Linked DNA regions of Homo sapiens: regions 1, 2, 3 and 4 are each reported to be linked to region 5. Evidence: microRNA targets listed by miRTarBase, many of them from high-throughput screens and not tested one by one. Region 5 holds a microRNA gene; each other region holds the end of a gene's coding sequence.

Region 1 (5,132 bases), not on the chromosome of region 5:
GGTCTCTATGCTGCCTAGGCTGGTCTTGAACTTGTGGCCTCAAGGGATCCTCCCATCTCAGCCTCTCAAAGTGCTGGGATTATAGGTGTGAGCCACTGCATCTAGCTTGTTAATAATATCTTGATAACAAAAAGACCTCTTAAAGTGTTTAAAGTCCATAATAAGGCCAGGCATGGTGGCAGGCACCTGTGGAGCTACTCAGGAGGCTGAAGTGGGACAATTGCTCGAGCCCAGGAGTTTGAGGCTGCAGTGAGCTATGTTCGCACCACTGCACTCGAGCCTGGGCAAGAGCGAGTGGAAAAAAGGAAAAAAAAAAGTCTATAATATAAAGTTTATTTTTTATCAGAGTACATTTATTTTTAGCCAGCCTCTAAACTCATCCAGAGCCACATACACGTTGAGTACTTTGTTTTACCTAGACAGTTGTAAAGACATGGTACCTGCTATTGTTAATTTTCTTTTTTTGTTTTGTTTTGTTTTGGAGATGGAGTCTCGCTCTGTTGCCCAGGCGGGAGTGCAGTGGTGTGATCTCCATTCACTGCAGCCTTGCCTTCCGGGTTCAAGCAATTCTCCTGCCTCAGCCTCCCAAGTAGCTGGGACTACAGGCCTGCGCCACCACGCCCAGCTAATTTTTATGTTTTTAGTAGAGACAGGGTTTCACCATGTTGGTCAGGCTGGTCTCGAACTCCTGACCTCTAGTGAGCCGCTGCACCTGGCCCTGATAATTTTCTTTGTCAACCAACCTGATCTATATCTCCATCACTGAATTGCCCTGGACTTACAAGATGAAGAAGGAATTGCAGCTGTGTTGTTTCTTGCTTCTTTCCCAGTTCCCTGAGATGAATGAGGTCTGTCAAGAGGATGAAAGGAAGGGCAGCATCTTGATTCCATTTATCATCCAGAACCTGGGCCTCCTGACTGGATTCACCATCATGGTGGTCCTCACCATGTATTCAGGACAGATCCAGATTGGGTAGGGCTCTGCCAAGAGCCTGTGGGACTGGAAGTCGGGCCCTGGGCTGCCCGATCGCCAGCCCGAGGACTTACCATCCACAATGCACCACGGAAGAGGCCGTTCTATGAAAAACTGACACAGACTGTATTCCTGCATTCAAATGTCAGCCGTTTGTAAAATGCTGTATCCTAGGAATAAGCTGCCCTGGTAACCAGTCTCTAGCTAGTGCCTCTTGCCCTCTCCTCACCTCCTTTTCTCTCAGTGACTCTGGAACCTGAATGCAGCTTACAAGACAAGCCTGACTTTTTTCTCTGATTACCTTGGCCTCCTCTTGGAACCAGTGCTGAAAGGTTTTGAATCCTTTACCCAACAATGCAAAAATAGAGCCAATGGTTATAACTTGGCTAGAAATATCAAGAGTTGAATCCATAGTGTGGGGCCCATGACTCTAGCTGGGCACCTTGGACCTCCAGCTGGCCAATAGAAGAGACAGGAGACAGGAAGCCTTCCCATTTTTTCAAAGTCTGTTTAATTGCCTATTACTTCTCTCAAAGAGAACCTGAAGTCAGAACACATGAGCAGGGTGAGAGGTGAGGCAAGGTTCATCCTGAATGGGAGAGGAAGTCGAACCACTGCTGTGTGTCTTGTCAGGATGCTCACTTGTTCCTACTGAGATGCTGGATATTGATTTTGTAACAGCACCTGGTGTTTCACGGCTGTCCGAGTGAGCTAACGTGGCGGTGTGGCTGCCTGGACCTCCTCTTTCAGGTTAACGCTGACAGAATGGAGGCTCAGGCTGTCTGCAAGAAAACAGTTGGTTTGGCTGTGATTTTGACCTCCTCTTCCCCACTGCCATCTTCTAAGAGACTTTGTAGCTGCCTCCTAGAAGCACATTCTGAGCACATTTGAGACCTCTGTGTTAGAGGGGAGACTGCACAAACTATCCTCCCCCAGGTTGAGACGTCTGCAGAGTGGCAAGCTGACTTGTAGAAATGGGGTGCCATTTATGCTCTACTTAGACAAGGGTAATCAGAAATGGAATCAGTGCAGGCAAAATTTAGGATTTGCCGCTTCCATAAATCAAAGCATGACTAATAGGGGGTCTCTGAAATGTAAGGGCACAAACTTCACTTAGGGCATCGCAGATGTTTGCAGAATGGTTGGCCTAATGATTATGCTACAGATGGGTTTTAAATGACCCGTCTAGGTTACTGCTTCCTTGCAAAAAAAGTCGAATCCTGCATTGAATTGAATATGAATTTCTCTAACTCTCTCCAGAAAATGGATGGAGATAACTTGTCTTTAAAACTGTAGGCCAGCCTTAGCCACTGTGGAGCCCTTGCCTCCGAGCTCTGGCTTCAAGGGGAGCTCTTCTCCAGGTTCACTAGGTGAATTGATTTATTATTATCATATTGATAATGTGAGATTCTTTAGCCACTTTGGGGAGCCTGTCTCTCCAGAAGCCTTTCTTAGTGGTGCCCACAGTTGGAGCCCAGGGGCCATGTTTGCAAACTGATTCATGTGCATGGCTGACAGGAGTACTGGTTCACTACCAATGCCTGAGCTTTTCTCTTACATAGAAAAACTGTCCGCTCTCAGTAATCACAAGCAGCATCCGTTTTGTTTTCTCTTCTTGGGAGACATCTGTCAAACCAGGAATATTCTTGAAAAGAACGTGAGCAGGAAAAACTGCTGGTGATACTTTTTTTAAGTTTTGTTTTTATCTTGCCTGTTGGCTTCAATACATTTGAGAATACGCTGAAGAGGGAAAATTTCAGTGATGGAGATTCTAGATTAAATATCAGGACTGATTTCCTGGTGGGATTATGGTCCAGTTTTACCAAAGAACCAATTCCTTGAATGTTGGAATCTAACTTTTTATATTGTCATTATTATTGTTGTTTTTAAACGGTTCTTTGTCTTTTCTGTTTTATTTTTCTCAAGCTGCTTTCAGGAGCTAGCAGAAAATAACTCAAAGTTGAAGACTCTGGAAGATTTTGCTTTAACCTAACTCGCATTGATGTATTAAATTTATAATTTTAGCATTCCCAATAGATCCTATCATTCCTTAAACATAATACCCTTTGTCTTGGAGTAGAATACTAAGTTAGAGTTAGTGGATTTCTAGTTTAGGAGAGGAGCTCAAAACTATAATCTTTAACAAATTGAAAAATGAAATAGGGTGTTTTCCCTTTTTGTGCACACCTATATTACCTTAAGAAATTTCCTTCCATAGACAGCTGCCTCAAAGGGAAATCCTCTTTAAACCGTAGTTGGCGCAGAGGTCAGTCCTAGTCGGAGCTTAGGAGGGGCGGAGACGCTCACATCGTCTGACTTGAGTCGCCACTGATTGTGGCAACAGCTTTGCCTCATGAGTCAAAAATTGGCAATTTCTTTTGATTTTTAGTTGTTGAATTTGCTGTTTCAAGCATTTGTACATATTAGAAGTCTAAGGAGTAGCAAGTCAGTGGGAGGACTTTTTCACCCCTGGCATTAGCAGCTTCGACCTCATTTTCCAGATGCACCAGCTCCTATTAATAAGTTAGCAAGGAAAGTGTATGTCACGTGCAGGAACAGTGAGGCAGGGACAGGGGTTCTGCTCCTTCTCACTTCACCACCGGCACACAGCTTGCCCCTGTCTTTGCCCCCAAAGGTATTTTGTGTCTAGTGTCAAATTGGAGCTATTCTTCACTGGTCCTTAACCTTGGGTTTTAAAAAGAAGGCTTCTCTGTTTGGGTAGCGTAAGAGCTGAGTATAGTAAGTCCTCTTCCAAAGAGATGGCAATATGCTGGGCATCTACTTTAAAACAAAGTTGTCTGATTTTTGCAAGAGAGGTTAGGATTTTATTGTTCTTATTTCCCTTTACAGTTCTGCAGTTCCATCACAGTATTTTTTTAAATAACTCAGGTGTATGAGAAGAAATTAGAAAAGAAAATTAACTTATGTGGACTGTAAATGTTTTATTTGTAAGATTCTATAAATAAAGCTATATTCTGTAATTGTTGAGAATCCCACGGGTGATCATTTGCAATAAATGTGGATGTAATGAAGGCTGTTGAACACAAGGTGGCGATGGTGTCTCACTGACGTACAAAGTTTTGTTTTACCAGGTCTGGTTTAACATTTGACTGGGATTTTAGAAGGTTTTTTTTGTTGTTGTTATTGAGACAGAGTTTTGCTCTTGTCGCCCAGGCTGGAGTGCAGTGGTGCGATCTCGGCTCACTGCAACCTCCACCTCCTGGGTTCAAGCGATTCTCCTGCCTCAGCCTCCCGAGTAGCTGGGATTACAGGTGCCCGCCACCACGCCTGGCTAAATTTTGTATTTTTAGTAGAGATGGGGTTTCGCCATGTTGTCCAGGCTGGTCTCGAACTCCTGACCTCAGGTGATCTGCCCGCCTTGGCCTCCCAAAGTCTTGGGATTACAGGCTTGAGTCATTGTGCCAGGCCAAGAAGGAAACTTTTGTACTCTCTTCTCTTTTCTTTCTTTGAGACAGTCTCACTCTGTCACCCAGGCTGGAATGCATTGGCACGATCTCGGTTCACTGCAGCCTCCGCTTCCTGGGTTCAAGCGATTCTCATGCCTCAGCTTCCTAAGTAGCTTGGACTACAGGCATGTAGTACCATGCCCAGCTAATTTTTGAATTTTGTTGTTGTTGTTGTTTTGTTTTTTTTTTTTTGAGACGGAATCTCACTCTATTGCCCAGGCTGGAGTGCAATGGCACGATCTCGGCTCACTGCAAACTCCGCTTCCCGGGTTCACGCCATTCTCCTGCTTCAGCCTCCCGAGTAGCTGGGACTACAGGTGCCCGCCACCACGCCCAGCTAATTTTTTGTATTTTTAGTAGAGACAGGGTTTCACCGTGTTAGCCAGGATGGTCTCGATCTCCTGACCTCGTGATCCCCCTGCCTCGGCCTCCCAAAGTGCTGGGATTACAGGCGTGAGCCACTGGCCATGATTTTTGAATTTTTAATAGAGATGGGGTTGCGCCATGTTGGCCAGGCTGGTCTCAGAACTCCTGACCTCAGGTGATTAGCCTGCCTCGGCCTCCCAAAATGCTGGGATTACAGGCATGAGCCACCGCGCCTGGCCTATACTCACTTTAATTGGTTTCTCTCTCTCTCTCTCTCTCTCTCTCATCTATCTTCCTATGTAGATAGATAACTGTTATCTACAGAT
Region 2 (5,132 bases), not on the chromosome of region 5:
TTAGTAAACATAAGATAATTCATACTGGAGACAAACCTTACAAATGTGATGAATGTCACAAAGCCTTTAACTGGTTTGCAACCCTTACTAACCATAAGAGAATTCATACTGGAGAGAAACCCTTCAAATGTGAAGAATGTGGCAAAGACTTTAACCAGTTTTCAAACCTTACTAAACATAAGAAAATTCATACTGGAGAGAAACCCTACAAATGTGAAGAATGTGGCAAAGCTTTTAACCAGTTTGCAAACCTTACTAGACATAAGAAAATTCATACTGGAGAGAAATCCTACAAATGTGAAGAATGCGGCAAAGCTTTTATACAGTCCTCAAACCTTACTGAACATATGAGAATTCATACTGGAGAGAAACCCTACAAATGTGAAGAATGTGGCAAAGCTTTTAATGGGTGCTCCAGCCTTACTCGACATAAGAGAATTCACACTAGAGAGAATACCTACAAATGTGAAGAATGTGGCAAAGGCTTTACTTTATTTTCAACCCTTACTAACCATAAAGTAATTCATACTGGAGAGAAATCCTACAAATGTGATGAATGTGGCAATGTTTTTAACTGGCCTGCAACTCTTGCTAATCATAAGAGAATTCATGCTAGAGAGAAACCCTACAAATGTGAAGAATGTGGCAAAGCTTTTAACCGGTCCTCACACCTTACTAGACATAAGAAAATTCATACTGGTGAGAAACTCTACAAACCTGAAAAATGTGACAATAATTTTGATAACACCTAAAACTTTTCTAAACATAAAAGACACCATCCTGTTGAGAAACCCTAAAAATGTGAAGAATTTGACAAAGCCTTCCAATGATTGTTACACTTGCTTGTAGGTAAGATAATTTATATTGGAGAAAACTTTATAAGTGTAAAGAATGTGACAAAACTTAACCAATACTCACATCTTATTGCACAGGAAAGCATTTTTACTTGAGAAAGATTGTACAAGTATAAAGAATGTGAAAAAGTCATTGATATCTTTTCACATCTTACTCAACACCAGAGTTTATACTTATTAAAAGCATTATAAATGCAATTACTGTCAAAAGAAATTTCAGAAAACATAACACTTTAAAGTGAAGAAGCGTGTTTATTTTGAAGACAAACATAACAAATATAAGGAGCATAGGAGGGTTGTAGTACCTTTACTTGTATTACAAATCTTATTGTACGCATTTTGTACTAGAGAAAAACACTGAAGCAGTTGCTCAAACTTTGTTCAACATCAGGGAATTTATATTGGAGAAAAATCCTGCAAATGTAATGAATTTGGAAAAACATTTTTTTTCAAAAACTACGGCGTAGAAAACATGAATTTATATTGAAATGTGTTTTTGCAGATGCAGTAAGTATGAAAAATATTTAATCCAAAATTGAGTCTATGTAAATATTAAATAATTTACAGTAGAAATAACTAAGGCACTGACACTTTAGACATTACACTAAAACAGAGTGTTGAGTATAAAAAAATCTATAAGTTGTTAGATTATTTGTAAATAACTTTAAAAGGAGTAGAAGATTCTTTGGAGAGTTATAATTACATTGAAAGTATACTTTTTTTCTTGAAAAAATTATGGCTTATTTGAAAAGTAAATAATGATGAAATTCAACTCTCAAATTACTTTATTTCATTCCTATTGTATTCACATGTGAAAGCATGTGATAAATTGTTGCTGTGTCAGATATAGGAGAGATTCTTTTTTATTAGATGGGCATTATTTATGGTTTTTTCTGTGGAAGAGTATGGGCATTAAAATGTAAGGTTTATGATGAAAATCTAAGTGGAGAGGCCCTGTTAGTTTACTTTTCATATTGAGTGATGCATGAGGTAGGTGTTTGGAGTAATATTCTGCATCATAGAGAAAAGCATTTTTAATTTTACTTTAAATTAAATGTAATTAAATTACTAGTGAATCATTTTACTAATTGTACTTTTATGCTATAAATGCAGTACATTTGAAAATTTTTAGATTATGTATAAGCTTAATTTTATAATTAAACATTTCTTTAACATGTTAAGACTATTGTGCATTCAATGAAGCGTTATTATGCCATTAACTTTAACCTTTTTCACTTTACTCAAGGAGGGAGGTAAAAGAGAGTAACAATATGTTATTTGGTCATGAGATGTTAATCTTTCTGTGCCTGGCTTATTTCAACTAATATGCTGTCCTCCAGATTAACTGATGTGATCAAAAATAATAAAATTTTCTTTTAGATTCCACATAGCAAAAGCAAGAGTAAGAGAAAAGAACAAATCTGGAGGCATCACATTACCTGACTTTAAACTATACTATAAAGCTTTAGTCATCGAAACAGCATGGTGCTGGTATACAAATAGGCACATAGACTATAAACGTGTGTGCAAGTATCTTTTTTCATATAATGCCTTTTTTTCCTCTGGATAGATACCCAGTAGTGGGATTGCTAGATCAAATGATAGATCAACTTTTAGTTCTTTAAAAAAATCTCCACACTATTTTTCATAATGGTGCTAATTTACATTCACACCAGAAGTGTAAAATTGTTCCCTTTGCACCACATCCCCACCAACACTATATTTTTTTATTTTTTAATTATGGCCATTCTTGCAGGAGTGAGGTGGTATCATATTGTGATTTTCATTTGCATTACTCTGATAATTAGAGATGTTGAGCAAGTTTCCATATGTTTCTTGGCCATTCGTATATCTTCTTTTGAGAATTGTCTATTCATATCCTTAGCCTACTTTTAAATGAGATTGTTTTTATTTCTTGCTGGTTTATATGAGTTTTTTGTAGATTCTGGATCTTAGTCCTTTGACAGATGTATAGATTGTGAATATTTTATCTCACTCTGTGGGTTGTCTGTTAACTCTGCTGATTATTTTTGCTCTGCAGAAGCTTTGTAGTTTAATTAAGCCCCATCTGTTTATATTTGTTTTCGTTGCATTTACTTTTGGGTTCTTATTCATGAAGTCTTTGCCTAAGCAAATGTCTAGAAACGTTTTTCCAATGTTATCTTCTAGAATTTTTACTGTTTTAGGTCTTAGATTTATGTCTTATGTCTATCTTGAGTTTATTTTTGTATAAGTTGTGAGATGAGTTTCCAGTTTTATTCTTCTACATGTGGCTTGCTAAACATCCCTCCATTATTTGTTCAATAGGGTTTCCTTTCCCCACTTCATGTTTTTGTTTGCTTTGTCAAAAATCTGTTGGCTGTAAGTATTTGGTTTTATTTCTGGGTTCTCTATTCTGTTCCATTGGTCTATATGCCTATTTTTATATCAGTACCATGCTGTTTTTGTGACTATGGCTTTATAGTATAAAGTTATGTAAACTTTAGGATTGTCTTTTCTCATTCTGTGAAGAATGATGTTGCTATTTTGATGGGAGCTACATTGTATTTCTAGATTGCTTTTGGCAATGTAGTCATTTTCACAATAGTGATTCTACCAATCCATGAGTATGGGATGTGTTTCCATTCGTTTGTGTCGTCCGTGATTTCTTTTAGCAGTGTTTTGTGGTTTTCCTTGTAGAGGTCTTTCATGTCATTGTTTAGGTATATTTTTAAGTATTTTTTTTCCAGCTATTGTAAAAAAAAGTTGCATTCTTGATTTAATTCTCAACCCAGTCACTGTTGGTGTATAGCAGAGTGACTGATTTGTGTACATAAATTTTGTATCTAGAAATTTTGCTGAATTCACTTGTCAGTTCTGGGAGATTTTTGGAGGAGTCTTTATGGTTCTTTAGGTATACAATCATATCATCAACAAATAGTGACAGCTTAAATTCCTCTTTGGATGCCCTTTATTTCTTTCTCCTATTTGAGTGCTCTGGCTAGGACTTCAGTGCTATGTTAAATAAAAATGGTGAAAGTACACATCCTGGTGTTGTTCCTGTTTTCAGAGAGAATGCTTTCAACTTTACCCTGTTCAGTGTTATGTAGGCTGTGTGTTTGACATAGATGGCTTTTATTACATTGAGATATGTCCTTTGTATGCAGATTTTGCTGAGGGTTTTAATTATAAAGGAATGCCGGATTGTGTCAAATGCTTTTTCTGTGTTTATTGAGATGATCATTGTTCATAATTCTGTTTATTGGTGTATCACATTTATTGACTTGTATATGTTAAATCATCCCTGCATCCCTGATACAAAACCCACTTGATCATAGTGGATTACCTTTTTGATATGTTGTTGGATTCAGTTAGATTTTTTTTTTTAAAGGATTTTAGCCTCTGTGTTCATTAGGTCAGTCTGTAGTCTTCTTTTTTGGCTATGTCCTTTTCTGGTTTTGGTATTAGGGTGATGCTGGCTTCATACAATGAATTATGGAGGTTCCCTCTTACCGTGTCGTGTGGAATAGTGTCAATAGGATTGGTACCAATTTTCCTTTTAATGTTGGGTAGAATTCTGCTGTGAGTCTGTCTGGTCTTGGACTTCTTTTGTTGTTAATTTTTTAAATTACGATTTTAATCTCACTGCTTGTTATTGGTCTGTTCAGGGTTTCTGATTTTTCCCGATTTAAGCTAGGAGGGTTGTACATTTGCAGGAATTAATTTATCTCCTCTAGATTTTTGTGTTTATGTGTGTAAAGGTGTTCATAGTAGCCTTGAATGATCTTTTGTATTTCTGTGATGTCAGTTGTAATATTTCCTGTTTTGTTTCTAATTAAGCTTAATTGAATATTCTCTCTTTTTTTCTTAATCTTGCTAATGGTCCATCAATGTTATTTATCCTTTAAAAAACCAGGTTTATGTTTCATTTGTCTTTTTTTCTTTTTAATCTTATTTAGTTCTGCACTGAGCTAGGTTGTTTCCTTTCTTCTGCTGGGTTTGGGTTTGGTTTGTTCTTGTTTCTCTAGTTCCTTGAGGTGTGACCTTAGTATATTGTGCTCTTTCAGACTTTTTGATGTAGACATTTAAAGCTATGGACTTTCCTCTTAGCACGGCCTTTGCTGTATCTCAGAGGTTTTGATAGGTTTTGTCACTATATCATTCCATTAAAATTTTTAAATATTTTTTGTCTTGATTTTATTGCTGACCCAATGATCATTCAGAAGCAGTTTATTTAATTTCCATGTATTTGAATGGTTTTAAAGGTTTTTGTTGTTAACTTTCAATTTTATTCCACTG
Region 3 (5,000 bases), not on the chromosome of region 5:
AACTGTATATGAGCAAATGATGCTGGATTAATGTTCATCATAATCAGTATGGAAATGGCATTTTGACTAGGAAAATGTCCTCATTCTTAAGGGATGCAGGCTGAAGTCTTCAGCCATTTCATTGTATAGGCTCATGGATAAAGCATCAGTTATGCTAGTATCACTTGGTGAATCTAGGTAAAGGGTATACAGGTATCCATTGTACTATATTCTGTCACCTATTCTGGAGGTTTGGAAATTTGCAAAATAAGTATAAATAGATTACTGAGCCTGTACCACCTTCTAAAACCAGACAGCACCCACCCCCAGTTGAAATACTGATAGCTCTAAAAACTTAGTAAAACCTTTGTTAGGATTAACAGGAGAGTATATGAAATCAAAGCTTTTTTTGTTCTTGTAACAGTTTATTCATGGAGGACACACTGCTAAGATTTCAGATTTTAGCTGGAACCCCAATGAGCCTTGGGTCATTTGCTCAGTGTCTGAGGATAACATCATGCAGATATGGCAAATGGTGAGTTAAAATGTTTTTCTTGAATGACTGTCTTGTAAAGGAGAGATTTACTACTTACATAATGTAATAAAGTTATTTCGAATATGTAGGTGCATATTATGCCAAACATTTACAGAAACCGTTTAAAAGAACTTTTTCCATTTCAACAATACAATCTTTAGTCCCATATGGTGCTTCGTCCACTGTTTGCTATTTGTAGCACCTGTCAGGTCAGGAGAAATCTCTGCATCTGCACTGATTTTCATTGTTGTTGTGCTCTTCATACACTGGAGTCTTGGCGTCGCTACTCTGTCTCCAGTGTCTGTTCTGTGTGGTAGGCATGAGGGATACAGGAAGGAGAGGTCAAGGCATTCAAATGACAGCAAGTTCTCTGAGGATGAGCACTAAGTAGCTGACATTTCTAAGTTGTTGTTAACCGAGACTTCCATAACATCTGGGCTACCACTTCCTCTAAACGATGCTTGAAGTGCCTTTGGAAAACATCTCTTATGAACAGTGATTGAAATAAGTAGTGCATCGATGGGTGGCTAAGTATACATACGGAATTACACACTGGCAAAGAATTTTTCAAAATACTGGCTAGCCTACCATTTCCTTATTGAAGTTTTTAAGAGAGAAATGTAAAAATGAAACTATTAAGTTCTAAATAGATTAAATTGTTTTTACATGACCATGTGAAAACCATAGGGAGTTTTTACCTGTGAATTTATTTGGTTATCTCCAGGCTGAAAATATTTACAATGATGAAGAGTCAGATGTCACGACATCCGAACTGGAGGGACAAGGATCTTAAACCCAAAGTACGAGAAATGTTTCTGTTGAATGTAATGCTACATGAATGCTTGATTTATCAAGCGCCAAAAAGGCATTGTATAGTAGGAAATGTAAGTGGGGTGGCTTATGGCTTCTTTATCCTCTGATTCTAGCACTTTCAAGTGAGCTGTTGCGTACTGTATCATATTGTAGCTATTAGGGAAGAGAAGAATGTTGCTTAAGAAAGAACATCACCATTGATTTTAAATACAAGTAGCAGGGTATTGCCTTTGATTCAACTGTTTTAAGTCCTCATTTTCTCAAACTAAGTGCTTGCTGTTCCCAAATATGCAAGAATAACTTTTACACTTTTTCCTTCCAACACTTCTTGATTGGCTTTGCAGAAATAAAGTTTTAAAATAAAACTTGTGTTTTTTTAAAAGCTTAGTGGGGGGGGGCGGGGGAGTCTACTTTTTGAGTAGAAATGGGTAAAATGGTACCTTTGGACTCCTACAGTTAAGGTCACATGGATAATGAAAGAATACACAGAAGCTGTTAAGTTTATCATACATATTTACTTAATCTATACAGAATCAAGTAGATAAAATCAGATTCACATTAGTGAAAAATCTCTACAAAATGTCTTTGAAAAGCAAAACGAGACTGCCTCTTAACAATTCGTATCCTCATGAAAGACGTGGGCTGTAAAAATAAAGCAGTGTGTTTAGCACAAACTAGAAGATATCTGCATCATTTTTTTCACAGTTATTTCCATCTACAGTCTGAAAGAGGTAGATTTTTCTGCAACACCTGAGAATTGAATTGTGATAACCAGGTGTAATAAAGGCAGTTGCATACATAACTGAAAAATACTGGTCTCAAGACCAAGAAATGTACTCCTAACAAGTCTGAGGATGAAATGGTCCATATTACCCAAGACCCAAGTTTTCTCTACACCTTGGAGTCCACCGCCAATATAAATAATACACATCACGATTCCATGATGGTGCAACAATTGCAATTTAAGTGAATTCAACATTTAAACCTTTTCTGGGCCAGCCTAGTAGCATTACAGTGTTCTAGAATATGGTAGATACGGGGTGCGCTACAAAGCCACAACACTGGGCTGGTGAGGTGATCACTGTAGGAAGATGTCCTTCTCAGGGGGTCCCATTTGTTTTTATTCACAGGGTAATGGGAGGAAGGGTTCTGAAAGGACAACAAATGCATCCCAGACAGAATCCATATCCTTTCAACACTATAATAGCATCTAGCTAAAAATACAAAGTAAGCCAAAAGCAGCAGGCCAAGTACTGTTAATCACATTGCTTTAAAGCCCTTGGAAGTATGCAACAGGCCCAAGATTTACAATCTTCCACACAGGACAAGCACCACAAAGAAACGTGGTGGGCTACACAAATGGCTTAATAAAATGTTAAGAGCTGTACATCCAGCAGAGTTCTTGTGAAATAATGTGATCATTAGTACTAATTTTAAGGTGGATTATATTTCTGATCTATACCTGCATTCCCCCCCACCACCAGGGAAATGAGTCTAGTATTTTAGTAGCAGAACAGGGTGTACTCCTAAGAGGCTGTTGGAGGGTGGTGTTTTTTGCTTCTGACTCATTTTGATGGTAATTAGATAATCTACTTTGTGGATTTATTTTCCTCCACTGTGGCCCCTTGAATTAACATGACTGATAGTGGAGGCTTAGATACAACCCTCCTCCACTCCAGGCGGTTTCCTATCTATCTATCTGTTGGACAATTTTCAATTCTTTCAACCCAGTTTCGACCATGAATGTGACAGGACTTTACAAATAACACTTGTAACAAAGAGAAAACCCTTTTAACTGGACAAAACAGAGTTTATTCAGTCCAGTAAGCAATTTAACAAGTGTCAGTCTGATAGTTTTGCTCAGTGGAATGTGCTAACATCAGTTCTAGTAGAACCTTTTATTTCATAAAGCATTTCAATGCAAATTATACCAGGGACAAAGTCAAAACTTCCATCAGTGCAGCCTGATTAATCATCTGCATAACTGCGCCACATTCAACATTGAAACAAAGAACTAATTCAAAAGTTATGTGCTTAATTTCAAATTTTCCCCCAGTCCAAGTGTAGAGACCTTGATAATACTGTGGCTTTTCTTTTTTCTTCTTAAAAAAGAGATGGTAACTAAGAAGGGGGTGAGAAAACAGACTGAACACGTAAGTAACAGATCATGACTAACACTCTGCCAAGTCTTCCCAAAGTAAAAATGTTGGTGCCAGTGTTTGTTTTGGAAATGAAAATCAATTTCGGTTGGTACTGATCCATAATGAAAATTCCCTTTTGAAAAACCTGGAGTACTTTGCTGGTGGAATTTTTGTAGTAACTTTCAAGTAGCCAGAAGGTATTGGAGAAACTTCTGCCTAGTGAAAGTGACACGTGAATTGACCGTCCTTGTCTTTGACAAGGGACTTCATTGAACGGCAAACATGAACACCAGTTTTCAAAGAATAAGTGGCCTTCTATGGGAAGTGGAGAATATGTACTGAAATCCCAAATCAGAATCAAACACAAACCGCCATCCTCTACGGGAGCCCCTCATGGTCCAAATCCCACACCTGAAACCAAAGCAGGATGACTGTTCAGTCACGTAAACACTAAGCTTATTTGTCTAGTGATTTGCCTCTATGTACTATTTTGTCCACAAGTGACATCTTTATATACATATTCTGCCGAAACTTAGGATTCTAGGCATGTGGCCATCTCAATTTGTCCCGAGATATAAATGTTTTCAAAAAGCTAATTTCAATCAAATATGCTTCTGACCCAACACTAGGAGTTTTATTTTTACTTGGCATTTAAATGGGTTATTAGACAAAACTAATCGCCTTGGTATTTTGTTTTTCTGAATAATATTATGGGGGGGGGGGCTAAGACGTTTAAATTAATATTGTTTTCACATCAAGGAACCATCGTCAGAACAAAGTTCCCTTGTAATGGTCGGCCCTGTCAGTGAAATTTTCATTAGGATGATAATGTGCAAGGAGCAGGGAGAGAAAGGACAAGGCAATGAACACATGCATTCCAGTGGAGGGAGAACGAGGCTGATGTGCAACACAGCTGAGGAAAATTTATAGATTAAACTATTCAAAACTGCTAAGCAGCCTCCTGTACCACATAAGTCCAGTAGTTCTAAGAAAATACAGATATGGTAGAAAAAGTAAGAAAATTTTCACCACAAAACCAATAGTTAACTACTAACAGAGAAAGTTATACACAAAATATATCTCTCAATACAGTGATCACACCTCATCTTAGTCAACCGACTCGATGGCCGGAGCAGAGCCTGTGGACGGGGGCTTTTGCACAGCGCTTCTCTGACTCTTGGGCTCAGCCTCCAGGTGCGCTCCCAGGGCTCTTTTCGAGGAAGTGTTCAGCTCCTTGTGAGAATCCAGGGCAGTACAGGGCTGCATCACAGGTGTTGCTAAATCCCTGTTCGCCGCTTTGATGGCCGCTTTGATGGATACCTGCTCTTTCAGGACTTCCACCTTCTCATTGAGCTCATTCCTTTCTGTCTGAAGAGCCCTGCACAGCTTCTCTAACCGTTCCAGTTTTATTTGAAGGGCCTTGTACTCTTTATCACGGACTGTTTTCTGTAAGAAAAAAGAGGATTTCTGTAACCCTGTTAAATATCAATCAGGTTACAAAAAAATTAAGCCAGCTCAGCCATATTGGACAC
Region 4 (5,116 bases), not on the chromosome of region 5:
CTCCCCGCCTCCCGGGTTCAAGCGATTCTCCTGCCTCAGCCTCCTGAGTAGCTGGCATTACAGACTTGTGCCACCACACCCAGCTAATTTTATATTTTTAGTACAGACAGGGTTTCTCCATGTTGGCCAGGCTGGTCTTGAACTCCTGACCTCGTGATCCACCTGCCTCAGCCTCCCAAAGTGCTGGGATTACAGGCGTGAGCCACCACACCCGGCTGGTATCTTTTTTTTTTTTTTTTTTTTGAAGACAGAGTCTTGCTCTGTCCCCCAGGCTGGAGCAACCATCACAGCTCACCGCAGCCTCAGCCTCCTGGGCTCAGGCGATCCTCCCGCCTCAGCCTCCCGAGTACCTGGGACCGCAGACGCGCTCCACCATGCCTGTTCTTTGTTGTTGTTGTTGAGACAGGGTCTCATTATGTTGTCCAGGCTGGACATGAACTCCTGGGCTCAAGCATCCTCCTGCCTTGGCTTCCTGTTGTGATTATAGGTGTGAAATACTACACCCAGCCTGATTTTTGGTTTTAGAGACAGGATCTTGCTGAGCTGCCCAGGTGGGAAGGCAATGGCTGTTCGCAGGCTCACTCACGGTGCACTACCGCCGTGAGCTCCTGGACTCAAGTGATCCTCCTGCTGCAGCCTCCCAAGCAGCTGGGACCACAGGTGTGAGCCATGTTTCCAGTTTATCACAGGTAATTTCAGATGTGAGTGACGTTCTGTGCCCAGTAATGGGGCTTTTGGGGTTTATACCACTGCACTCCCCCAGCTGTGGTGTACAACTTGCACCTCGTCCCTGAGCTCTTGCTGATGCCACAGCTGAGCTCTTGCTGATGCCACGGCTGCCTTCTCACTGCCTGTGGGTCCCTCTCTCTAGCTTCAGTATTTCATTCTGCTTTCCAACAGAGCCAAGCTGGGCCCAGTTCCTTCTACTCTCCTGTGAGACTGTCTTCGCTGTCCCCCAGCGGGAAGGAGGAAAGCAGCTCCCTGGTGTGGGGGGAGGTGGGTGGAGGTTGTGTGCGGCTCCACGTGCTGGGGCCCTTCCCCTCCTGCCAGGCTCAGGCCCAGGCCCAGCTGCCGCTTGGAAATGGCGACCCCTGAATGGAGACCTGTCTTGCCAGATGCTGCACGGTCTCCTGGGCAGAGCAGGCGCTCTCTGTGCGGGGAGCTGACGGCTCACGGGCTTTCCACAAAAACCTCTCACCTCCTTCCAGGTTTTACAAAAGCCACCAGCTTCTCTTCTACAGCAGCAAAAGCCGCCATATTTCTTTCCTTTTTCTGTTGAAGCCTGGGGCCTTACGCCTTGGCAAGGTGTCAGCTTCCCTGAGAGGGGGACCCTGTGCCAGAAAGGGGTGCCAGCTTCCCTAAGAGGGGGACCCTCGGCTGGGGAGGGGCACCGGCTTCCCTGAGGGGGAACCCTGTGTCGGGGAGGGGCGCCAGCTTCCCTGAGAGGGGGACCCTGTGCCAGGGAGGGGTGCTGGCTTCCCTGAAGTGCCTAGGGTCCGAGCACTCACCTGCTCTGTGCTTTGGGTTTGTTTGTTTTTTGTTTTTTTTTTTGCTAATGGCAGTCCTCAGAGCCTCCGGAAGGGAAGGCATCAGGAAGGCTTGAGTTACAGGTGGTGGACCCTCAGAGCCAGCCTGCTCCAGAGCCCGGGCTCCCAGGCAGGAGCTGGGTAGCGCTGGGGTCCATGGATGTAGTTGAGCGAGTGGGGTTACGCCATCTTCCTCCAGCTCCAGCCAGAGACTCCCGAGAGCGGTCTGAAGCCCACATGGGTGGCCCCGGGCAGCAGGGTCTCCAGGCTGGCACGCAGGCTCCTGCGGTTCTGGGTACTCTGACGTTTCTCAGTGTTTATTCACAAGTCTCTCTGAGGGGCGGCAGGCTGTCTCTCGTCCCCTATGGCAGGAGGCTGTTTGGGAGTCGCATGTGCGGCATCTCTGGCAGGTGCACGGGAGCCGAGACTCCAGCAGACCAGGGTGGGGGCCGGAAGGGAGCTGCTCTCGCCTGACACCCCTCGTGGGCACCCGAGACAGGGAGGCACAGCATGGTGGCCGGGACGTCGTCACCACTGTGGGCTGGAACTGCAGCGTGCTCTGTGTGACACAGGCTGACTCAGGTTTTTCTTTTAAGGCAGGGCTTAAAGGAAGTTTTACTGTGACCAAAGTTCTGTGATTGAGGGGGTGTGGAGAAAACAAAAAGCCTGGCCAAGATGGTGAAACCCCGTCTCTACTAAAAATACAAAAACTAGCCGGGTGTGGTGGCAGGCGCCTGTAGTCCCAGCTACTCGGGAGGCTGAGGCAGGAGAATTGAACCCAGGAGGTGGAGGCTGCAGTGAGCTGAGATTGCGCCACTGTGCTCCATCCAGCCTGGGGGTCAGAGCAAGACTCCATCTCAAAAGCAAGCAAAAAACCCCCAAAAACCCACGAAGCCCCCAAAACAAACCACAGCTAATCCGAACCCAGAAAAATAGACTGGAACCTTCTGGCTTCTCCACACCCCCACCCCAAGCCCGTAAATGAGGTGGACAACCCTGCCTTTGCTCAGGCTCAGCCCTGAAGGGAACAGGAGGGAATCCACAAAAGTTCTGTTCACAGATCGAAGACAGGAGAGGGGGCATGGCCCCACGCCTACCCCCAACCCCACGCAGGGGCCCAGCTGGCGAGGGAGCTCACAGCAGCCTTTGGGGGAATGAAGCCACTGCCCCCGCCACTGGCTCAGCCTGGCAGGGCTCAGGGACCCTCCCAGGTCGGGCTCCTCCGCAGGGGACCCAGTGACCAGGACCCTGTTGATTCTGATGCACGGGCAGTGTCTGCTCTTCTGTGGGGGTTGTTTCTGTAGCTGCCACTCCCTCCCCAGCACCCAGGTACAGGGGACAGACAGCTCAGAAGGAAAAGGGTGAGGCGCCTCCATCAGCTCACCCTCCTGTCACGCCGGGGGCCAACAGTCTCCTGGAGCCACACTGGCTGGAGGGTCCTGGCAGGCATCCTCTGTGCCAAGATCCTCTGAGCAGAGGCCTCGCATCTCCATGCTTGCCTGAGCTGCCTTCCAGCCAGGACAGGGCTCTCAAAGCGCGGACCCTCACCAGCTGCAGCTGCCAGGGAACTGTGGGCAGGGGCACAAGCCAGCCAGCCACAAGCTGAAGCTCAGGGGCGTGCACAGCTGGCCACGGGGTCTGGCCACGGCTGCAGTGCTCAGATCCGTGGGGAGTGATGCTCCTGTTTCTCTCCAGCTCCTACAAGAGGCAGTAATTCCACAGCATTCCCGGTCTGTGCAAAGGCAGAGGACGAGGGGAACAGATAATTTGTTTCAAAATTAAAAGCTAACAACTTGGTAGGAAAAAGGTTTTCTTTTTTTTCAGACAGAGTCTGCTGTGGAGTAGGGTGGCGTGATCTCAGCTCACAGCAGCCTCCACCTCCTGGGTTCAAACGATTCTCCTGCCTCAGCCTCCGGAGTAGCTGGGACTACAGGCGCGCGCCACCACACCCAGCTAATTTTTGGTATTTTTAGTAGAGAGGGGATTTTGCCATGTTGGGCAGGCTGGTCTCAGACTCCCGCCTCGGCCTCCCACAGTGCTGGGATTACAGGCGTGAGCCACCACGTCTGTCCTGGGAGTAAGAAGGTCGTCGAGAGGGGCGACACTGTGTCAGTCCCACACACAGCCCCTCTCCTGGAGGGACGCACTGTACAAAGAGCATTTTAATTAATTTATTTATTTCTTTACACATAACTGAAAGTGATGTTACAGTACATAAGTTATTTACAACTGTGCAGTAATGTGTTGCAAAATAAATTATCTAGAAGGCAGCAAAAGTACATTGTGAAGGTATATAAAACTGTACAGCGTTTACGGATACACTTTTTATATGATTATTGGCTCTGTAGTGTTTCAAGTTACGTTCTCAGAAAGAGAAACAAAATGCCCAAGATTAAAGGAAAGAAGATACAAACCACGCGGATTTGACTCCATTTCAATACGGCTGGGAGTCCTGGCTCTGTGTCCCTCCGCCTGGCTCCGCACCAGGTCTGAAGCCCAGTCTGAGGCCGTCGCAGCTCGGCGGCAACAGAACCACGGCTGGGATGGGGCTCCTGCCCCTCCGACCTGCAGGTCACTGTTTGTGAGAGGTGGACACCTTAATTTTCTTTAGTTGATCAGAATGGAACAAAAAATTTTAAAAATGTACTCCGTTCTCCAACTCCTGAAATGCCTCTGCAGTTGCTGGAGAAAAGGGCCCGAAGGTCGCCGTTTTCAAACAGAAGCTGCCGTGTGTGCGCGCCCGGCATGGTCTCCTCATCCCGCCGGGGCCAGTGAGGCTCTGGGGGCTTTGCCCCCGCCGCGGCAGCTGGTAGAGAAGAGACGTGTTTCACCTCCCCGACGTCTGGACCAGTCTGGAAGGGATGGAGGCGCTGTGGCCAAGTGCAGTCTCTCTCGGGGTCTCTCCCCGCCCGGGTGGACAGGGCGCTCCCTCCTCCGCCCCTGGGGCTCAGCAGCAGTCCTGGGCAGCCGTGCGGCCCTCGCCTGCGTCCTGCGGCCGTCCCGCGGTGTCATGCCGGCAACAATACAAAGTCGTCGTTGACGTCGACCATGGGCACGTAGAAGGAGGGCACCTCGTTCACGCACAGGGACTTGTGCCCGGCGGGGTCCAGTTCCTGCACCTTCAGCTGCCACTCCATCCTCTGCACGGCGTTCAGGGCCGCGGCCTCGTGCTGCTGCCGCATGAGGAGGCAAGTCTGCGGGACACACAGCGGGGAGAGGAGGGAGGAGGAGTGAAGGGAGAGCCCCAGACTCTGCCGACCTCAGCTGCCAGCAGGGCCAAGGGCGTGATACGGCCGTGAACCTACCCTGGTATGGGCCAGGCCCAGCTGTACCCGCTCCTGGCATCTAGTTACTACACGTGGCGGTAGCGCCAGCTGTGCTACATGTCTGTCCCCATAACCGCTGTCTATGCCACCTCTACCCTGGCCTGGGGCTCACCCTGGCCCGGGGGCCCTGCCCTGCTCTGGGTGGGCCTGGGACTCACCTCCAGCAGCCACTGCAGCTTATTAGAATCGAACAGCTTTGCTTTTGTCATTTTACAATTACTTACGGCCAGTGATAGTTTCACTTGTATTTCTAGTAGAAACTAT
Region 5 (5,132 bases):
AGGGCCTCAGGTGGCTTATGATCATGGTGGAAGGTGAAAGGGGAACAGGTATGTCACATGGTAAGAGAGGGAGTAAGAGAGAGAGGCGTGGGTACCAGGCTCTTTTAAATAACCAGCTCTCCCATGAACTAACAGTGAGAACTCACTCATCACCAAGGGGATGGCACCAAGCCATTTATGAGGGATCTGCCCCCATGACCCAAACACCTCCCACTAGGCCTCACCTCCAACACTGGGGGTCACATTTCAACATGAGATTTGGAGGGGTCAAACATCCAAACTGAGATTTGGAGGGGTCAAACATCCAAACTGTATCAGTCACATAAACGATTTTTAGCCTAAGTTCTTGGGGATTTGGGGGTTCCTCTTTTTTGTGAACAATTCTGAACTGACACCTGGATTTCTTTCTTTTTCTCTTTTTCTTTCTCTCTCTCTCTCTCTCTCTTTCTTTTTAACTTATTTATTTTTAGAGATGAGGTCTCACTACATTGCCCAGGCTGGTCTCAAACTCCTGGCCTCAAGTGTTTTGCCTGCCTCAGCCTCTCAAAGTGCTATGATTACAGGCGTGAGCCACCACGCCCAGCCTGGCACCTGGATTTCTTAAGAATGCATCATCATCTACATTTCAGGCTACTTACTAAAAAAAAAAGATGGTTTATTCATTCTGGGCTATATCTCTCCTGTAAATATCTAAAGTATACTTTTTAATTTGGTCAACACAATCCACATATGAAGTTGGGCTTACAGATAGAGTAAGAATGAAACACTGGGTAAATCTGGTCAAGACTTGGTCCCCCCAGCGTGTGCAATCTTATGGGAATAATAGATAAGAACATACATAAATACAGAAGCATATTTTCATGCCTTTTAAGCATAAAACAATGATGTTTGGGTTGGTATACCAACCAAATCACCAAATGTGACTGACTGTTTCTAAAATGTTGATTCATCCTAGCAGGGTGAAAACTAGTGGTGGGGGTAAAAAAGACAATGCTAGTCCAAAATCAGTTTCCAGAGGGGTCCCGACGTGGCTGAGTCACAGCAGCACCACTGAAATCAATGTATAGCCTCTCCTGATTTAGAACACTGCATTATAGAACAGAAAGATTATTTTAAAGCCAGACACGGTGGCTCACACCTGCAATCCCAGCACTTTAGGAGGTGGGAGAATGGCTTGAGCTCAGGAGATTGAGGCTGCAGTGAGCTGTGATCATCCCACAGCACTCCAGCCTGGGAAACACAGTGAGACTTAGTCTCAAAACAAATAAAAATTTAAAAAAATTTTTAAAAACCACCTAAGATGTTTTCTGTGGTTTGAGCTAATAAAATTCTAAAGATTAAAAGCCACTTACAATGGCTTTCATATTTAAAAATGTTATTCACCTCATCAGAGTTAATGTAAGTCTTTTCCCTGACATAACAATCAAGCTAACTCATACATACACAGACAGATAGGCAAGTTACACAAATGGCCTCATGGATGACACTCTCGAGTGTTTAGGGATAAAATATAGGTTTACGTCCCAAGTATAGTATATATTACATAAGTAACTTCAAATCTCTATGTCTCAATTTCCTCATTTGTAATTTTGAGACCGGTATTTGTCAAGGTTGCTATGAGAAGTTAGAATCAAATTATGGAAAGTAGCTGGGCATGGTGGCTCACACCTGCAATCCCAGCACTTTGGGAGGCTGAGGTGGGTGGATCACTTGAGGTCAGGAGTTCGAGACCAGCCTGGCCAACACGGTGAGACCTCATCTCTACTAAAAATACAAAAATGAGCCAGGAGTGGTGGCACACACCTGTAGTCCCAGGTACTCTGGAGGATGTGGCAGGAGAATCACTTGAACCTGGGAGGCAGAGGTTGCAGTAAGCCGAGATCGTGCCACCGCACTCCAGCCTGGGTGACAGAGCGAGACTCTGTATAAAAAAAAAATACCCTCTCTATTAAAAATACAAAAAGATTAGCCGGGTGTGGTGGCAGACACCTGTAGTCCCAGCTACTCGGAAGGCTGAGGCAGGAGAATGGCGTGAACCCAGGAGGCGGAGCTTGCAGTGAGCCGAGATCACGCCACTGCACTCCAGCCTGGGCGACAGAGCGAGACTGAGTTTCAAAAACAAAAACAAAAAATTATGGTTGGCACCTAGCATCATACCAGGCACACAGGTGGCACTCAACAATTGTTGGTTTCTACATGTCCTTTATAGCTATAGTATCTGTTAGTAGTAGAAACCACTGTTAATTTTAGGGCCCTAAAAGGAGTAATGTCTTCTCAAGTTCCTTCCAAAAGAGCAATTGCTATTTAGTAAAAAATAAACACCAACTGCTCTTTCAGAAGGAGCTTCAGAAAGGTAGAAGGGTCAACAGTATAGAATACTTACAAAGAACTGGAATCAATTAAGAATGCAAAAACAGTCAGTAGATGTATAGAGCACTCTTGACATAAGTAACTCCATCTTAGAAAAAGACTCCTATCTTTCATTTCAAAAAGCACTTTGACAACAGGGACCAGATGTTTTTCCAGATAAAGACACAACCAAGCATGCTCTTCCACTATCAGTCCTTACCAGAAGACTCTGTGACCATAAAAAGAACAGGACTTAAAAAACTCAAAATGGTCTTAACAGACACTGTCTTGCTGTCACTTGTTATAAAAGCCTGATATCTGTGTCCAAAGGCTCTGCCCACATCAAGGATTCTTTCTTACAAGACCAACACACTGCCATGATGAAACCAGGATACTTGTCTATATCACTCTCCCCGGACTGGTTAGGTAACCCTTTTTCCTCACCCTTTTCTCTTGATGTTCAATGTTACTTTGTTGCAGAATGTTTAATCTACATCATTTATGTATTAATTAGGTATACTATTATATATGATTTACAATATTGACTGACTACCTAGTGAATGAGAAGTACTAATAAAAATTGCCTCCTTGAGAACTCCATGTAACTTGTCTTTTATAACTGAAATAACACAATAAAAGTCTGACATTGTGAAAAGACACAAATGTGTGTGTACCTGGTTATCCATGACCTTAAACCATTCACAATAGTAGATTAAGCTGTTAGGAAGTCAGAGTTGACCTTTGGAAGAACAGTTCCAGTGGTCAAAGTAGGATGAGGAAAGGCAGTACGTGCAGAATATATATATATATATATATATATATATATATATATTGTTGTTGTTGTTGTTGTTTTGTTTTGTTTTGGTTTTTTTTGTTTTTGAGACGGAGTCTTGCTCTGTCGTCCAGGCTGGAGTGCAGTGGCGCAATCTTGGCTCACTGCAAGCTCCACCTCCCGGGTTCATGCCGTTCTCCTGCCTCAGCCTCCCGAGTAGCTGGGACTACAGGCGCCTGCCTCCATGCCCGGCTAATATTTTGTATTTTTAGTAGAGATGGGGTTTCACCGTGTTAGTCAGGATGGTCTCGATCTCCTGACCTCGTGATCTGCCCGCCTCAGCCTCCCAAAGTGCTGGGATTACAGGTGTGAGCCACCACACCCGGCCCAGAATATTCTTTAAATAAGCTTAGCACAAAGGGAAAGAGAACAGGCAGAGGCTGAAGAAGCTACCAGATTCCAGATCAGATTGGTATAGTTTTCTGATGGGACAGACCTGACCATGTTTGAGGGCTGAACAGAAGCAGATACTAGGTTAAAGCTATAGGAAAGAGATGAAAATTACTGGAGCAAAGTCCTGGAAGAAAACTGGCCATGGGCTGGAGGGGAGGACAAAGATTGAAGGTAGCAGACACTGAATATGTCTATTTTTCCTCTGAGACCAGCAGAATGTAGAAAACACGAGTACAACTGTAATTGGAAAAAACTGAAAAAACTCATCCCAAGTAGGTTCTATTTTATCTAGAGAGTAAAAGGTAAGATCATCTGCAACAAGTGAAGGGAATGGGTGGAGATGGCCATGAGGCAAGAGAACATTTCAATTCCCTTAAATTTCTAAAACTAGGTATAAGTGCTGTATTTGCAAGAATATACTTGAGACAGAAATGAATAATTATGGTCTTACTACAACGTTCCATTATGCTAGATGCTCCACAAATATAATCACATTTACTTCCCACAAGAACCCAGTTAAGTGAGGCATTGTTATTGTCCCTGTTTTATAGTTCGATTGATGATGGCATTCATAGTTAAGCTTTACTACAGAACCTTTTTTTTCAGCTATTATGCCATATTTGCTTCTTAAAAAATTAAGTTATACAATACTATGTATGACGATATAATTTCATTAATCGTTTTTGATTCAGGCATAAACAAAGTTAGAAAAGTAATTCCAGGCCAGGCGCAGTGGCTCACGCCTGTAATCCCAGCACTTTGGGAGGCCAAGGCAGGCGGATCACCTGAGGGCGGGAGCTCAAGACCAGGCTGACCAACATGGAGAAACCCCGTCTCTACTGAAAATACAAAATTAGCCAGGCGTGGTGGCACATGCCTGTAAACCCAGCCACTCGGCGAGAGGCTGAGGCAGGAGAATCGCTTGAACCCAGGAGGCGGAGGTTGTGGTGGGCCGAGATTGCATCACTGCACTCCATGCACTCCAGCCTGGGCAACAAGAGCGAAACTCCATCTCAAAAAAAAAAAAAGAAAGAAAGAAAGAAAAAGAAAAAAAGAGAAAAATAGGCAACAAGTGAAAAAAAGAAGTATCTTTGTAGATTAAATAGAAATATATTACCACTATTGCCAGTCACTCTCTCTATAGCAGGAGTCAGAAAACTATGGCCTATGGGCCAAATCCAATCTAATATCTGTTTTTGAAAACAGTATTTTATTGGAACACAGCTCTGTCCATTCATTTACTGTCTACAGCTGATTTCACACGACCATGGCAATGTTGGGTAGCTGTGACAACGGTACACAAAGCCTAAAATATTTCCCATCTGCTCTCTTTAAAAAGTTTGCCAATCTCTATGTTCTTTTATAGCACTTAACTGTATCTAAAATTATTCTACTTATTTTTTATTTATTCATTTATTTTTTATTGTTTTTTTTTTTTTTTCTTGAGACGGAGTCTTGCTCTTGTCACCCAGGCTGGAGTGCAATGGCACAATTTTGGCTCACTGCAACCTCTGCCTCCCAGGTTCAAGTGATTCTCCTGCTTCAGCCTCCCGAGTAG

The links. Region 5 holds the annotated microRNA hsa-miR-4766-5p (UCUGAAAGAGCAGUUGGUGUU, at 2,318-2,338, opposite strand). A microRNA usually pairs through its seed, bases 2 to 8, with sites in the 3' UTR of a target mRNA and lowers its output. Matches are read on the target gene's strand: a 7mer-m8 pairs with bases 2 to 8, a 7mer-A1 pairs with bases 2 to 7 and ends in A, and an 8mer does both.
Region 1: the mRNA of SLC39A14 is a reported target of hsa-miR-4766-5p. Seed matches in the 3' UTR shown: 7mer-m8 at 1,717-1,723 and 7mer-m8 at 2,903-2,909.
Region 2: miRTarBase lists ZNF680 as a target of hsa-miR-4766-5p. Seed matches in the 3' UTR shown: 7mer-A1 at 1,069-1,075.
Region 3: miRTarBase lists TXLNG as a target of hsa-miR-4766-5p. Seed matches in the 3' UTR shown: 8mer at 2,476-2,483 and 8mer at 2,049-2,056.
Region 4: the mRNA of ANKRD11 is a reported target of hsa-miR-4766-5p. Seed matches in the 3' UTR shown: 7mer-m8 at 3,720-3,726.

Annotation. Positions count from the first base shown.
Region 1 is chr8:22,418,722-22,423,853 of GRCh38, forward strand. It overlaps SLC39A14 (solute carrier family 39 member 14), which reads left to right. Exons shown (of 9, transcript NM_001128431.4): 9 at 831-4,015. The coding sequence ends at 977. Among named protein-coding and RNA genes, the nearest start is that of PPP3CC, 20 kb to the right of the region's middle.
Region 2 is chr7:64,516,781-64,521,912 of GRCh38, reverse strand. ZNF680 (zinc finger protein 680) reads left to right here. Exons shown (of 4, transcript NM_178558.5): 4 at 1-2,035. The coding sequence ends at 752. Among named protein-coding and RNA genes, the nearest start is that of ZNF680, 44 kb to the left of the region's middle.
Region 3 is chrX:16,841,342-16,846,341 of GRCh38, reverse strand. TXLNG (taxilin gamma) reads right to left here. Exons shown (of 10, transcript NM_018360.3): 10 at 1,823-4,914. The coding sequence ends at 4,576. It overlaps RBBP7 (RB binding protein 7, chromatin remodeling factor), which reads left to right. Exons shown (of 12, transcript NM_002893.4): 11 at 404-514; 12 at 1,239-2,001. The coding sequence ends at 1,307. Among named protein-coding and RNA genes, the nearest start is that of RBBP7, 27 kb to the left of the region's middle.
Region 4 is chr16:89,263,944-89,269,059 of GRCh38, forward strand. It overlaps ANKRD11 (ankyrin repeat domain containing 11), which reads right to left. Exons shown (of 13, transcript NM_013275.6): 13 at 3,687-4,720. The coding sequence ends at 4,535. Among named protein-coding and RNA genes, the nearest start is that of ZNF778, 49 kb to the left of the region's middle.
Region 5 is chr22:40,811,610-40,816,741 of GRCh38, forward strand. It overlaps MIR4766 (microRNA 4766), which reads right to left and starts at 2,349; the gene lies at 2,274-2,349. All of the region lies in intron 1 of SLC25A17 (solute carrier family 25 member 17), which reads right to left.